Regions from separate parts of the Homo sapiens genome. Here regions 1 and 3 are each linked to region 2. The links come from fine-mapping of genetic effects on gene expression. A gene starts in region 2. Each other region holds a variant in brackets. All regions are shown on one strand. Distances are between the middles of the regions. Region 1 overlaps CEP55 (centrosomal protein 55). Region 2 holds the start of FFAR4 (free fatty acid receptor 4). Region 3 overlaps FFAR4 (free fatty acid receptor 4).

Region 1 (4,000 bases), 49 kb before region 2:
CAATTCTAGATGACAAGCTAAGAAAAGAAAAATGAGAAACTCCATGCAATGCTCTCCTTAAAAGACTGACAGTTTGGAGGGGACCAAAGCCTTGAATTTTATAGAGAAGTCTAAAGAAAGGGGAACAAGACTCATAAGATTGGAGAATCATATTTGAATACTTAAAACAAAGCTAATGCTAAAAAGAAACTATAAATGTCTCTGGAGGCACTTCAAAGCTGTCAGCCCTAATGGCACTAAGTTGCTTCTATAAAATATGTGCTTATGTAAAAGCAGGATTTTAGTTATGGGCTAAGTCTAATTTCTTTTCTTTGGTAATACAGTTCTCTCTCTCTCTCTCTCTCTTTCTCTGTGTGTCTGTTTTATCAAAGCAATATAAGCACTTGTTAGAATAATGTAATAGTTAAGAAGGACCTTGCCCTGTCTTTCCCATCCCAATCCCCGTTTCTTCCTCCCATCAGGCAACTGCTCTTAATATTTCTATTTTTAATTTTGATAGTTATCTCCACATATAAATAATGAGCTTGTGTTCCTATTTGTTGATTGAACTTCTTGAGACTTTCCCTCCCAACAGAATAGATGTTACTGTTTTTAGTTCTTCTATTTGTGAGTTTTATAACTTCAAATAGTATACCTGAACTTGTTTTTTATTTCATCAAATATCAACCATAGTCCCTATCTCTTGACTTTTCATGTTGTAAACTAAGGAAATAGTGTGATTCATTTAGATGTTTGATGTTTCTCTTTTCAGGAATATTATTTATTTTATAAAGTGAGTTGTGCCGTAATGTTGTTTGTCATAGGTTATCTTCAAGAAGAGAAGCAGAAATGTTACAACGATCTCTTGGCAAGTGCAAAAAAAGATCTTGAGGTTGAACGACAAACCATAACTCAGCTGAGTTTTGAACTGAGTGAATTTCGAAGAAAATATGAAGAAACCCAAAAAGAAGTTCACAATTTAAATCAGCTGTTGTATTCACAAAGAAGGGCAGATGTGCAACATCTGGAAGATGATAGGCATAAAACAGAGAAGATACAAAAACTCAGGGAAGAGAATGATATTGCTAGGGGAAAACTTGAAGAAGAGAAGAAGAGATCCGAAGAGCTCTTATCTCAGGTAAACTTAACCAGATCCATAATTCAGAGTGTTCACCGAACACTTTCTAAGTGTCAGGGACTATTTGACCACTAGAGAACTGGCTAGGGACAAAACAAATTCCTGCCCCTCATGGGAGTTATATTCCAGAACAGAAACAGACCATAAACAATAAATAAGGAAACTAAAGAAAATGCAACAGGGTGACATGACAAAGGGAAATTGGGGACCAGTGGAGGCCTCTCTGAGGAGATGGCATTTGGACAAAGACCTGATGATGAGGAGGACCCAGTGAGGTGGGTGACTTTTCCTCTCAATGGAGGAAATTGTACACACAAAGGCTCTGAGTGAGGAGGAGGTCAGTATATGTGAGAAGCCAAAAGAAGAAGTGAAGTAATGAGAGGAATCGAGGCTGATTCCTAGACTGGCATCTTAATGGTGATGATATGTGCTCAAGTGAATTCACATGGCATCTTCCATGTTCTTGTTATGCTCATAGCCTTATGCTATGGTATCATAATAATGTTGGAGTTACTACGTTAGGATTATTGGAATTGAACAGTACTTTGATGGAACTCTTTAATTTAGATTTTGCTTTGCAGCCTGGCATCATGGAAGGAACATTATTTGGAATCCATGCCTAGTCTCTAGTCCAGGATATATGGCCTTAGGCAAATCACCTAACTTCTCTGACTACTCACTGGTTATTCCCTTGTCAAATTAATAATAACCTCTGCTTGCCATATAGGGCTTTGGTGAGCGTCAGTTGAGAGAAGGTAAAAGTGCTTTGTAAACTAAGCGAGGTAAATGCTAGTTATTGCTACTATTTTAATAATAATTTTTAACAGTCCTACAAAAGTTGAGGGTGCTGGTGATGGGACAGTAACAAGTCCATCTATAACATTTGCCATCTTAGTCTTTTTTTTCTTTTTTTTTTTCTGAGACAGGGTCTTGCTCTGTC[G/A]CCCAGGCTGGAATGCAATGGCGTAATCTCAGCTCACTGTAACCTCCACCTCCTGTCTTCAAGTGATTCTTGTGCCTCAGCCTCCTGAGTAGCTGGGATTACAGGTGCCCACCACCACGGCTGGCCAATTTTTATATTTTTAGTAGAGATGGGGTTTCACCATGTTGGCCAGGCTGGTCTCAAACTCCTGACCTCATGTGATCCACCTGCCTTGGCCTCCCAAAGTGCTGGGATTACAGGTGCAAGCCACTGTGTCCAGCCTGCCATCTTAGTCTTTACCACTCACACTTCTTCTGTCTACAGGTATGAGCAGTGATACTAGGGAGAGATTAAGTCTGCTGATTAAATTTTGCTTCAGCTCTGGCTAAGGGCCCAGCACTGCCACCCATGTTATCCTACTCAGAAGTGTCAGAACCTCCAGGAAAGGGGGCATGGCTGCTGCAGAGTTCAGTGCTGTTTATCAGCATTCAGTCTGTGTGCCTCAGGGAACTCTCGGCAAGGGCGGTGGTATACTGCTTAGCTGCTGGCATAGATAGCCATCAGATGGCCAGCTGGAATGATTCACCCCTGACTAGCAGGTGTTGTCCTGGTTAGAGATGTGAGACTTGTGATGTGAGCTTTCCGTGCATCCCAGGTCAAGCCGGAAAAGGTTGGATGTGACAGCATTGGTTCTCTTTATGTCCTACAGGTCCAGTTTCTTTACACATCTCTGCTAAAGCAGCAAGAAGAACAAACAAGGGTAGCTCTGTTGGAACAACAGGTACTCATTCGGGTTGCTTCTAAATTCAATTCTGCCTGTTAGAAAATGCAGTTTTTCCTCATGTTTATGCTGTTCTATGGAGAACTGTTTGAAAGTTGTGAAAAGTGTCTTTAAAAGACTTCAATAAAAGTCTTTCTTCTTCAATAAAAAAGATATTTCAAGAGACTCTGCTAGCCACTTATTCCTGTTGCTGACCTTAGGCTAAACAGATTCTTGAGGTGTGATGGCAGTTTTCTTGACAGGTAGATGTTGGCCTTGGCAAATTTTGCTCTTCCCCAGTGGCTGTAGCTCCTAGCCTAACAATGTCTCCTAAGTAGGGCTACCTTATAACTTCAAGCAGAACTTGGAGAGACACCATTTAGTCTCAGAATGTATTATAAATGGTGTAAAGCAGAGATTTTTAGTATATTCCAAACCAGGGAATAGCTATCTCTTTCCCTTCTCCTTCTTCCCCCTTAAAAAAGGTGGATAGGGAGGAGTAATTCTAATCAACAACTTCTTAAGCTGCTCTTCATTCACCTATACCTCAGCGTTGGCTTTGCTCCTTGGATAAACCAAATCCTCAGCCATAAGCTGCCTCGTTTATTAACATTTCATGGTGCTTAGGTGAATTCTTGCTACGATGGTACAATAAATATTTTCTTCATGTGCTAATAAAAAAATGTGAGCATCCAGTCAAGAGAACTAGACAGTCTGTATCAGCTGTAATGGTCTTGTTCTGGGCCTTTTCCAGATGCAGGCATGTACTTTAGACTTTGAAAATGAAAAACTCGACCGTCAACATGTGCAGCATCAATTGCATGTAATTCTTAAGGAGCTCCGAAAAGCAAGAAATCAAATAACACAGTTGGAATCCTTGGTGAGTCTGGAATGATTAAACTAAAATTTGTCTTCGTCTTCCATTTATATACCAAATCAGTTCCGAACTTAGGAGGATACAGCTTAACACACAGCTAGCTGTATCTCAAATCAGTAGGTAGAGCCTCTGCCTCATTTGAAGCAACTGCCCTTTGAGCATCAATTCAGAGGACATGAAAGAGGGACATGATCACATCTGGAAACATTCCCCCAACTACCCCAGCTGCTGTGATGCTGGAGGCACTAAATAGTGCCTGAGCTGGGGTCAAAAGGGTAGAATAGAGGGTAGTCACAGAATCCTGAACTGAAATTGTGTTTATCTATT
Region 2 (4,352 bases):
ACCCTGGTTGTACATTCTAGGGAAACCTCTCTGTGTCTATCTCATCACATCAGCCTGTGATGTAATCAATCTCTCTCCGTCTCTGTCTGTGCTTTTCCCTCTTACTTTCTCTCTCTCTCTCTCTCTCTCTCTCTCACACACACACACACATACATATACCTATAGTTTCCTTTCCCTCACACAAACACTAATATCCCCTGACCCTAATCAGACAGTTGCCAAAACCCCATTTGTCTGAGTTCCCTTTATTTCAATTTTTTGCCCTTTTTCAACTGTTTCAGGAAGCAAACCAGTTCTGTTTTTCAACTTGAACCTAGTCAATGTTCAAGCTGAGCATCTACTTCTCAGGTTAGAAGTCACATCATCAGCTCAGACCTGTTTGATACCGTGAAAAGCAGACACACAAATGGACCCCCTCCCCAGACAGTACTTCAGACTCTGGCGCAACCAGCCTGAAGTACTCAGGTTTCTTTCTTTCTTTCTTTCTTTTTAAGATGGTGTCTCGCTGTGTGGCCCAGGATGGAGCGCAGTGGCCTGATCTCGGCTCACCGCAACCTCCACCTCCCGGTTTCAAGCAATTCTCCTGCCTCAGCCTTCCAAGTAGCTGGGATTACAGGTACCTGCCACCATGCCCAGCTAATTTTTGTATTTTTAGTAGAGACGGGGTTTCACCACGTTGGCCATGGCTGGTCTGGAGCTCCCGACCTCAAGTGATCCACCCGCCTTGGCCTCCCAAAGTGCTGAGATTACAAGCATGAGCCACTGTGCCCAGTCAGTGCTTAGATTTCTTAAGACCCAACCTTAAGAAAGACAATTAGAAGACAGAGTGGGCAACTGGGAGAGGCCTGGTAATATGGCAGAGGGAAGAGGGGGTGAAGGTGTGGGTGGCAGGAGGGTGGCTGGTTGGGGAAGTGGCCACTGGATCTTAGGCCACAGGCATACTTTTCCATCTCCAGCTTCCTCATTTACAGAAAACGAGACTGCAGTGGTGTGATGGAAATGTGTGGGACGGGGACAGGTGACTGGCTTTCATTACTAACCAGAGGACAGCTTAGACAAGTCACTCTGGCTGGGCCTCAGTTTCCTTATCTCTAACGGGACTGGATTGCCCAGTGCTCCTCAAACTGTGGCACCTGGGGCACATTCATAGCTTGTGTGTGAATCTGCCAGCCTTGAAATATCTGTCTTCCTTGGATGGCAAGTTTATTAAAAATTTTGGAAGGACTCACTCTTTTTATAAGAAAGCATTTATGTCATTGTTCAGAATGCAAAATGTATATGCATTTTAGTTACAATAACTAATATTTGATAACATTTAACGAGTAATTACTGTGTGCCAAGTGTGCAAAACTCTAGGTGAGCCTCACAATAACCTAATGGGGTATTATTATTCCCATTTTATAGATTAAAAATCTGGGGTAGAGGGAGTAGATAATCCACCTAAAGACCTGTTATTAAGTAGTGATAAAAGATCTCCACTCCCTCTCTCCCCCACAAAAAATATGGACTCATTACAAGTTGTTTTAGGATCTACCTCCAGACCCATGGAGTTTCTTTAGTAAAGCCTGAACGACACAGGCCAAAATAATCTCCAAAGGCCAGCTCTGACCCTTTTAAATCAATTTTAGCTAAATCCGTTCACAAAAGGCTTCGCACATCCAGTGTCCCTGAAAAATAAAGGAGGTTGGGCAGGCCCTGCGGGGGCTCGAGGAATTCGCTAAGTGAGTTTTCTGGCTTCTGGATACACTTTCAAAGGGCCAGAGGGCACGAGGCTTCCGCCTTGGCCGCCACCTCCCCGGCCAGCTGCGGTGTTCGCGGCCAGTGTTGCCGGGCACTTCCTGGTTCCCGCGCGCCCCGGGTGCAGCTCCCTGCACCCAGTGCTGGCGCTCCTCAGAAGGGAGGGGGCCAGAGGCGAGATGTCGCAACCGCCTCCCTCCCTCTTTCCCCGCCTTGGCACTCAGTCGCCTCCCAGATGAGCACTCTCTCAGACCGCTGCGGGCCGCCAGGCGCCGGGAATGTCCCCTGAATGCGCGCGGGCAGCGGGCGACGCGCCCTTGCGCAGCCTGGAGCAAGCCAACCGCACCCGCTTTCCCTTCTTCTCCGACGTCAAGGGCGACCACCGGCTGGTGCTGGCCGCGGTGGAGACAACCGTGCTGGTGCTCATCTTTGCAGTGTCGCTGCTGGGCAACGTGTGCGCCCTGGTGCTGGTGGCGCGCCGACGACGCCGCGGCGCGACTGCCTGCCTGGTACTCAACCTCTTCTGCGCGGACCTGCTCTTCATCAGCGCTATCCCTCTGGTGCTGGCCGTGCGCTGGACTGAGGCCTGGCTGCTGGGCCCCGTTGCCTGCCACCTGCTCTTCTACGTGATGACCCTGAGCGGCAGCGTCACCATCCTCACGCTGGCCGCGGTCAGCCTGGAGCGCATGGTGTGCATCGTGCACCTGCAGCGCGGCGTGCGGGGTCCTGGGCGGCGGGCGCGGGCAGTGCTGCTGGCGCTCATCTGGGGCTATTCGGCGGTCGCCGCTCTGCCTCTCTGCGTCTTCTTCCGAGTCGTCCCGCAACGGCTCCCCGGCGCCGACCAGGTGAGCGCCCCTCTGTGTGTGCCGGGCAGGTGTCCTGCGCAGGCTGGGAAGCGGGGCCCCGACGGAAGCTGGGATGAGGATGATCAAGAACAACAATAGCCATTTATTGCACTTAATCGTTGTGCCAAATCTTGTGCCCATGGCTGTGAAGTTTAATCTCTTAAATCTCACTACAACGCTGTGCACACGCCCTCCTAAATGATGTAAGTGGAGTCCCCCAAATTCTTGCAAAATGCAATGACTGTTGCGAGGTTAATTAACGAGTAGTTTAGGAGCGAGACGGAACTTTGGGGGTGCAGGGTGGCCAAACACTTTGTATTGAATCATGATTCCTCGCCAGGTGCTACAATACTGTTATTATCACACCCATTTCACAGATGAGAACCAGAGGCACACCGAAGTGTATAATAACTTGCCCAGAGTATTTTATCCGTAATTCGAGGAGGAGATGGGCTCCTTCCAGAAGTTTACCCGTAATTCAAGGAGGAGTTGGGCTCCTGTCCAGGGTTGGGTTATGGTCCTGCTTTGAAAGCGCGCGGACAGGCATGTGAGACCCGGGGACCCCAGATGCAATGCTGTCTTTAGGGGACTTGTGACAGAATTCCCTTCCGGGGTCTTCAGTTTTTTCAGCTGCAAAACGGAAGGATTACACTAGACCTTCGAGGTGTCCTGGGCGCCTGAAATGTGCAGATTACAGAGGCTGGACCGACGAGCTCTGTTTTACATAGCGGGTCAATAGTTGTCATTATTAGCTCATAGGGGTGGGAGTGACCATGATCGGAATAAGGTTCTGCGGATAGTGCAGGACATTGGCTCTGTTCCCCTCAAGTCCCGCGGTCCGGAATCCCGAGCTCGGGTCTTTTTCTCTTGCCGCTTTGCCCGGTGGTTGCAGGGTTCGTGCGCCGGGATCCACACGGAAGAGGGAATCTAGACGCGGAGTCACGGTGGAGGACAGTGGCCGCCGTCTGGCTGTCTTCCCAGTGTGTTTGGTTCTCCATGCCTCGCGGAGAGAGATAGAGAAAGGACTTAGGTCTGTGCGCTGGGGGCTCAGCCTCCAGGAGCTTCTGCCCGTGGCTGGGTTCTTGGCCTCCCCTTCCCTGCCGGGGTCACTGGTTTTCCGGCCTGGAACCCCCTACCCTTAAGCTCCCTCTCCACCTAGGAGTGAATATGGGGCGCCCTGAGTAATCGTGGCACAAACAGGAATCACGGTCCCAAAGAGGGACCTTCGAAGTGGTCAGAGAGGGGAGTAGGGAGGGAGAAATGACATGTCACCAGGGGAAGGCTTGGTTATGGAGATGCACACAGCCCACCAGGGACACCCCCTGACTGTGTGACCCTCCAGAGCCTGAGACAGAGAGGTGGAGCTTCTCTGGGGGTTTTCCCAGACCAGTCTCTCACACAGCCCTTTTATTGGGGGTAGGATGGATGGAGTCTGCCTCCTGTATCCTGTGCGAGATTTTTTTTTTTAAACATAAATCAAACTTAAACACTTGTTTCTAATGCTTGTGTGGAATACATTGTGGGGTGTTTGTTTGTTTATGAGCTTGAATGACTAATAGGCAGGAGCCCCATCAAGCCTGTGGCACTTGATCAAATAACATGCAAGCTTGTGGCCATGTCCACTCAAGTGGGGCCCAGAGAAGCCAGGATTAGCTGAGCTGGTGGGTGCCATTTATGGGCAGACCAAGGGCTCTGGCTTAGTGGACAGGCTTGTTCTTAGCCCACACACACCTGAGAATCAAGGTGGGCCACGCAGATGCCTCTAAAAGC
Region 3 (4,352 bases), 21 kb after region 2:
GTCACGGGAGGAACCCGGTGGGAGGTAATTGAATCATGGGGATGGTTTCCCACAGGCTACTCTCGTAATAGTAAGTTCTCATGAAATCTGATGGTTTTATAAGGGTCTCCCCCTTCGCTTGGTTCTCATTCTTCTCCTTCCTGCCACCGTGTGGAGAAAGGAAACATTTTCTTCCCCTTCTGCCATGATTGTAAGTTTCCTGAGGCCTCCCCAGCCCCGCAGAACTATGAGTCAATTAAACCTCTTTTCTTTATAAATTATCCAGTCTTGGGTATGTCCTTATAGCAGCATGAGAACGGAATAATATAGGGAGAGAGGGGAAGAGTATGCACACTGCTATTTCAGCTGCTACCTCCCCAAACAAGGCCAAAGAAATAAAATACTCCTCAATAGGGGCTAGATAAATTGCAACCACCATTTACAGAAGATAACAAGAATGAAGTGCCTTCTCTGTGCAGATATGGCCCGAGCACCATGATATACTGCTAGGTGAAAAAGGAGCAAGGCCCGGAGTGTGGTGCGTGGTGTGGGCCCATCTGTGTACCAGGTAAAAGAGCAGATGCCTGCAATCCCACGCCAGGAATATTGTGTGTGGCAGTGGTGCATTTCCAGAAAGCCATATGGGAAAATACTCACGTTAGTCACCTCCCAGGGTGGAAATAGAGGGTAGAGAAGGCCAGATGTTCTTCATTTGTTCCCCATCAGTATAGCATTGTTTGAGTTTGAACCCTAAGCACATTGTGCTTGCAAACAATTAAAGAGACATCTCTTTTAAAAAAATAACAGGGAAGATGTCCCTCTTGTAGACCACCCAATTCAGGCTTTTCACTTCCCCTCATAACGCTGTTTAGAAGGTAGGTGATTTTCTGCTTTATTTCTCAGGAGTGCAGCCGGGGTCCCATTTCTCCAGCACATCCTAAGCTCGGGCACACAAAGTCCCAGAGGCACACAGCTTCAGTGCCTTGGGGATAGCAGATTCCAACTCTTGGGCCCCTAACTCAAAATCCCCAACAACCCTCGGTCACCTGTGGCTCCAGTCCTGTTTTGGTTTTCCACAGATCACAAAGGCATCAAGGAAGAGGCTCACGGTAAGCCTGGCCTACTCGGAGAGCCACCAGATCCGCGTGTCCCAGCAGGACTTCCGGCTCTTCCGCACCCTCTTCCTCCTCATGGTCTCCTTCTTCATCATGTGGAGCCCCATCATCATCACCATCCTCCTCATCCTGATCCAGAACTTCAAGCAAGACCTGGTCATCTGGCCGTCCCTCTTCTTCTGGGTGGTGGCCTTCACATTTGCTAATTCAGCCCTAAACCCCATCCTCTACAACATGACACTGTGCAGGAATGAGTGGAAGAAAATTTTTTGCTGCTTCTGGTTCCCAGAAAAGGGAGCCATTTTAACAGACACATCTGTCAAAAGAAATGACTTGTCGATTATTTCTGGCTAATTTTTCTTTATAGCCGAGTTTCTCACACCTGGCGAGCTGTGGCATGCTTTTAAACAGAGTTCATTTCCAGTACCCTCCATCAGTGCACCCTGCTTTAAGAAAATGAACCTATGCAAATAGACATCCACAGCGTCGGTAAATTAAGGGGTGATCACCAAGTTTCATAATATTTTCCCTTTATAAAAGGATTTGTTGGCCAGGTGCAGTGGTTCATGCCTGTAATCCCAGCAGTTTGGGAGGCTGAGGTGGGTGGATCACCTGAGGTCAGGAGTTCGAGACCAACCTGACCAACATGGTGAGACCCCCGTCTCTACTAAAAATAAAAAAAAAAATTAGCTGGGAGTGGTGGTGGGCACCTGTAATCCTAGCTACTTGGGAGGCTGAACCAGGAGAATCTCTTGAACCTGGGAGGCAGAGGTTGCAGTGAGCCGAGATCGTGCCATTGCACTCCAACCAGGGCAACAAGAGTGAAACTCCATCTTAAAAAAAAAAAAAAAAAGATTTGTTATGGGTTCCTTTTAAATGTGAACTTTTTTAGTGTGTTTGTAATATGATCAAATTTAATAAATATTTATTTATGACTGTTCAGCAATCACATCTCCTACATATAAAGCCACACCATAGTGGTTTCTGAAGTGAGTCTTAGAACCGATTCAGGACGCAGATTTCTCCTCTGAAGGGTCACAGCCACCCTGTGCCCTACCTTGGACTCGCAAGGGTTTAGGATCATTCGTTGATGTCAAGAGCAATTGAAGAATTTCTAAGGAACAGTTAAAGATGACTTACTTTTTTTTTTTTTTCATTTATAAAAATGC[T/C]ATGGACCCTTTTAAGAGAATCGGCATCATGAAATGAGAGAGAAAGTAGGATGGCTCTGAAATGTTTGAGAGTGAGTTCAGGAGTGGTTTACTCCTGACGCATCCAGCAGAGATGCCTCTTAAGCACCAGCCATGGCAGACAGTGTCCTTTGTGCTAGGAATACAGTGGTGAACCAGACAGCCATGGCCCTCTCTCAGGGAACTTACCTTCGAGTCAGGGGCAGAAAAACTAAATAAAAGTCAATAAACTATATCTATATACAGATACCTATATATTTGAGATGAGGGTCTTGCTCCAATGCCCAGGCTGGAGTGCAACGGCACAATCACGGCTCCCTGAAGCCTCAAATGCCTTGGCTCAAGCAATCCTCCCGCCTCAGCCTCCCAAGTAGCTGGGATTACAGGCGTGAGCCGCCACGCCTGGCTACAAGTCAATAAATAGTATAGCATCACAGAGCGAATAAGCACTGTGAAGAAAATGGGACGGGGGCTATGGTAGTGATGGGAATTTAGATCAGATGGGGAGGGGCCTAAGGAGACCTTTCTGAGGAGTGACAAATTGGATCAAAAGGTAAGCGACAAGAAAGGGCCACCTGTGTGAATGGGGGAAGGGACACAGAAGAGATGTTAGTGCAAGGAGGCTGACACGCTTGAAGGGAGAGTGGCGTAAGCCGACTATTGATGGAGCCTCCTCTGCACTAGGCACTGCCTTTAATGCTGAGATGAGGGGTACCCGGCTGGGGCCTGTCAGTTGAGGCCAGAGAAATTGCAGGGTTAGATCACATAGGGCCTAGGAGTTTATTCTGTTCTCCAAGCCCCTGGAGGTTGGCAACTGGAGGCTGACGTGACCTGATGAATGTGTGCAAAGATTACCCTGGCTGCTGGGCAGGGAATAGACTCTGAGGAGCATGAGTGAAAATGGAGACCAGTTGGGCAGCTGCTGAAGTGTGACATGGGGATGGGACCTTGGAGGTGAGTGGCATTAGGGAGGGATTGTGAGAAATGACTTGTAAATATACCTTGGGAAGGTAAAACAAAGATGATTTATTGATGGGAAGGATGGAATTGATAGAATGTGAGGGAAAGGGAGAACTCAAGGGGAATACTCTGATTTTTTAGCCTGTCATTGGTTGGATGGTGAAGCAGGCAACAAAAATGGGGGGGCCTGGGCAAAGATTAGGGGGGGGGGAGCCAAGAGTTTCATTTGGAGCTCATCAGTTTGAAATCTCAGTGAGACTTCCAAATTGAATAGGCAGTTGGATGCAGAGATGTGGAGCTTGGGCCTGGAGATGCACATTGTTTGGAGATATAAATGGTGTTTATAGACCTATGGTTTTATAATACATCCCTTGGAGAGATAGAGAGAAACCAGAGCCAAAGACCGAACCCAGGGTCACTCCACCACTTGGAGGCTGGGCCAGTGGCTGGAATGCACAGCAGCACGGGGCCTGGTGTATAGTAGGTGTTCAACAAATCTTTGTTGCTGAGGAAATCAGCACCAGCAGTAGTGACTGCTTATGCAGTTTCTGGAGCAGCTTGCTTCTGAAGTCAGATTCATGGATATCACAAGCTCGAAGACAAACGAACAGAGATGTTTTGCTCACTTTAGTTAATAGATTTGATCAATTAAACCTGTTTTTGGAAGTGATGTGTGGCTATCTTATTGAAGCGGCATTGCTGTCTGGGGTAAATAACCGGGGTTTGTCATCTTGCGCCAAGAGGATTAAGGACACGGACATATGTGGGTGGGTTAAGGAACAGAATGTTTAATAGGCAGAAGAAAGGAGAGAGGAGAGCAGCTCTCTCTCTCGTGAGACAGAGGCATCTGAAAAGGGAAAAGTGGTGGACCACAGCGTATTTTATAGGCAGGCTTGAGGAGGTGGTGTCTGATTTACATAGGGCTCACAGATTGGTTTGACCAGGTGTGACGTTTACGTAGTGCACGAGAAAGGCTGGCCACCCCACCCAAATCTGATTATGCAAATGGACTTTCCACTTGGCCATCTTGTCTTCTCCTTACTGCACTCATAGCTGGCAAAAAGAGAAGACGGAGCCGCCATTTTGAACATGCTTAGTCTTAGGTAGTACA

The links. PIP is the estimated chance that this variant, and not a neighbour inherited with it, causes the effect. A credible set is the group of variants that fine-mapping cannot tell apart.
Region 1: its variant is the best candidate, but not a certain one, in a credible set for the expression of FFAR4 in blood mononuclear cells (TOPMed, PIP 0.54).
Region 3: its variant is the best candidate, but not a certain one, in a credible set for the expression of FFAR4 in whole blood (TOPMed, PIP 0.51).

The regions. Positions count from the first base shown.
Region 1 is chr10:93,516,132-93,520,131 of GRCh38, forward strand. CEP55 (centrosomal protein 55) reads left to right here. Exons shown (of 9, transcript NM_018131.5): 6 at 804-1,117; 7 at 2,746-2,817; 8 at 3,551-3,676. Among named protein-coding and RNA genes, the nearest start is that of CEP55, 22 kb to the left of the region's middle. The variant G/A (reference allele first, on the strand shown) is at 2,058.
Region 2 is chr10:93,564,706-93,569,057 of GRCh38, forward strand. FFAR4 (free fatty acid receptor 4) reads left to right here and starts at 1,960. Exons shown (of 3, transcript NM_001195755.2): 1 at 1,960-2,582. The coding sequence starts at 2,016. RefSeq lists an enhancer at 1,362-2,200.
Region 3 is chr10:93,586,162-93,590,513 of GRCh38, forward strand. It overlaps FFAR4 (free fatty acid receptor 4), which reads left to right. Exons shown (of 3, transcript NM_001195755.2): 3 at 1,059-3,911. The coding sequence ends at 1,448. Among named protein-coding and RNA genes, the nearest start is that of RBP4, 13 kb to the right of the region's middle. The variant T/C (reference allele first, on the strand shown) is at 2,264.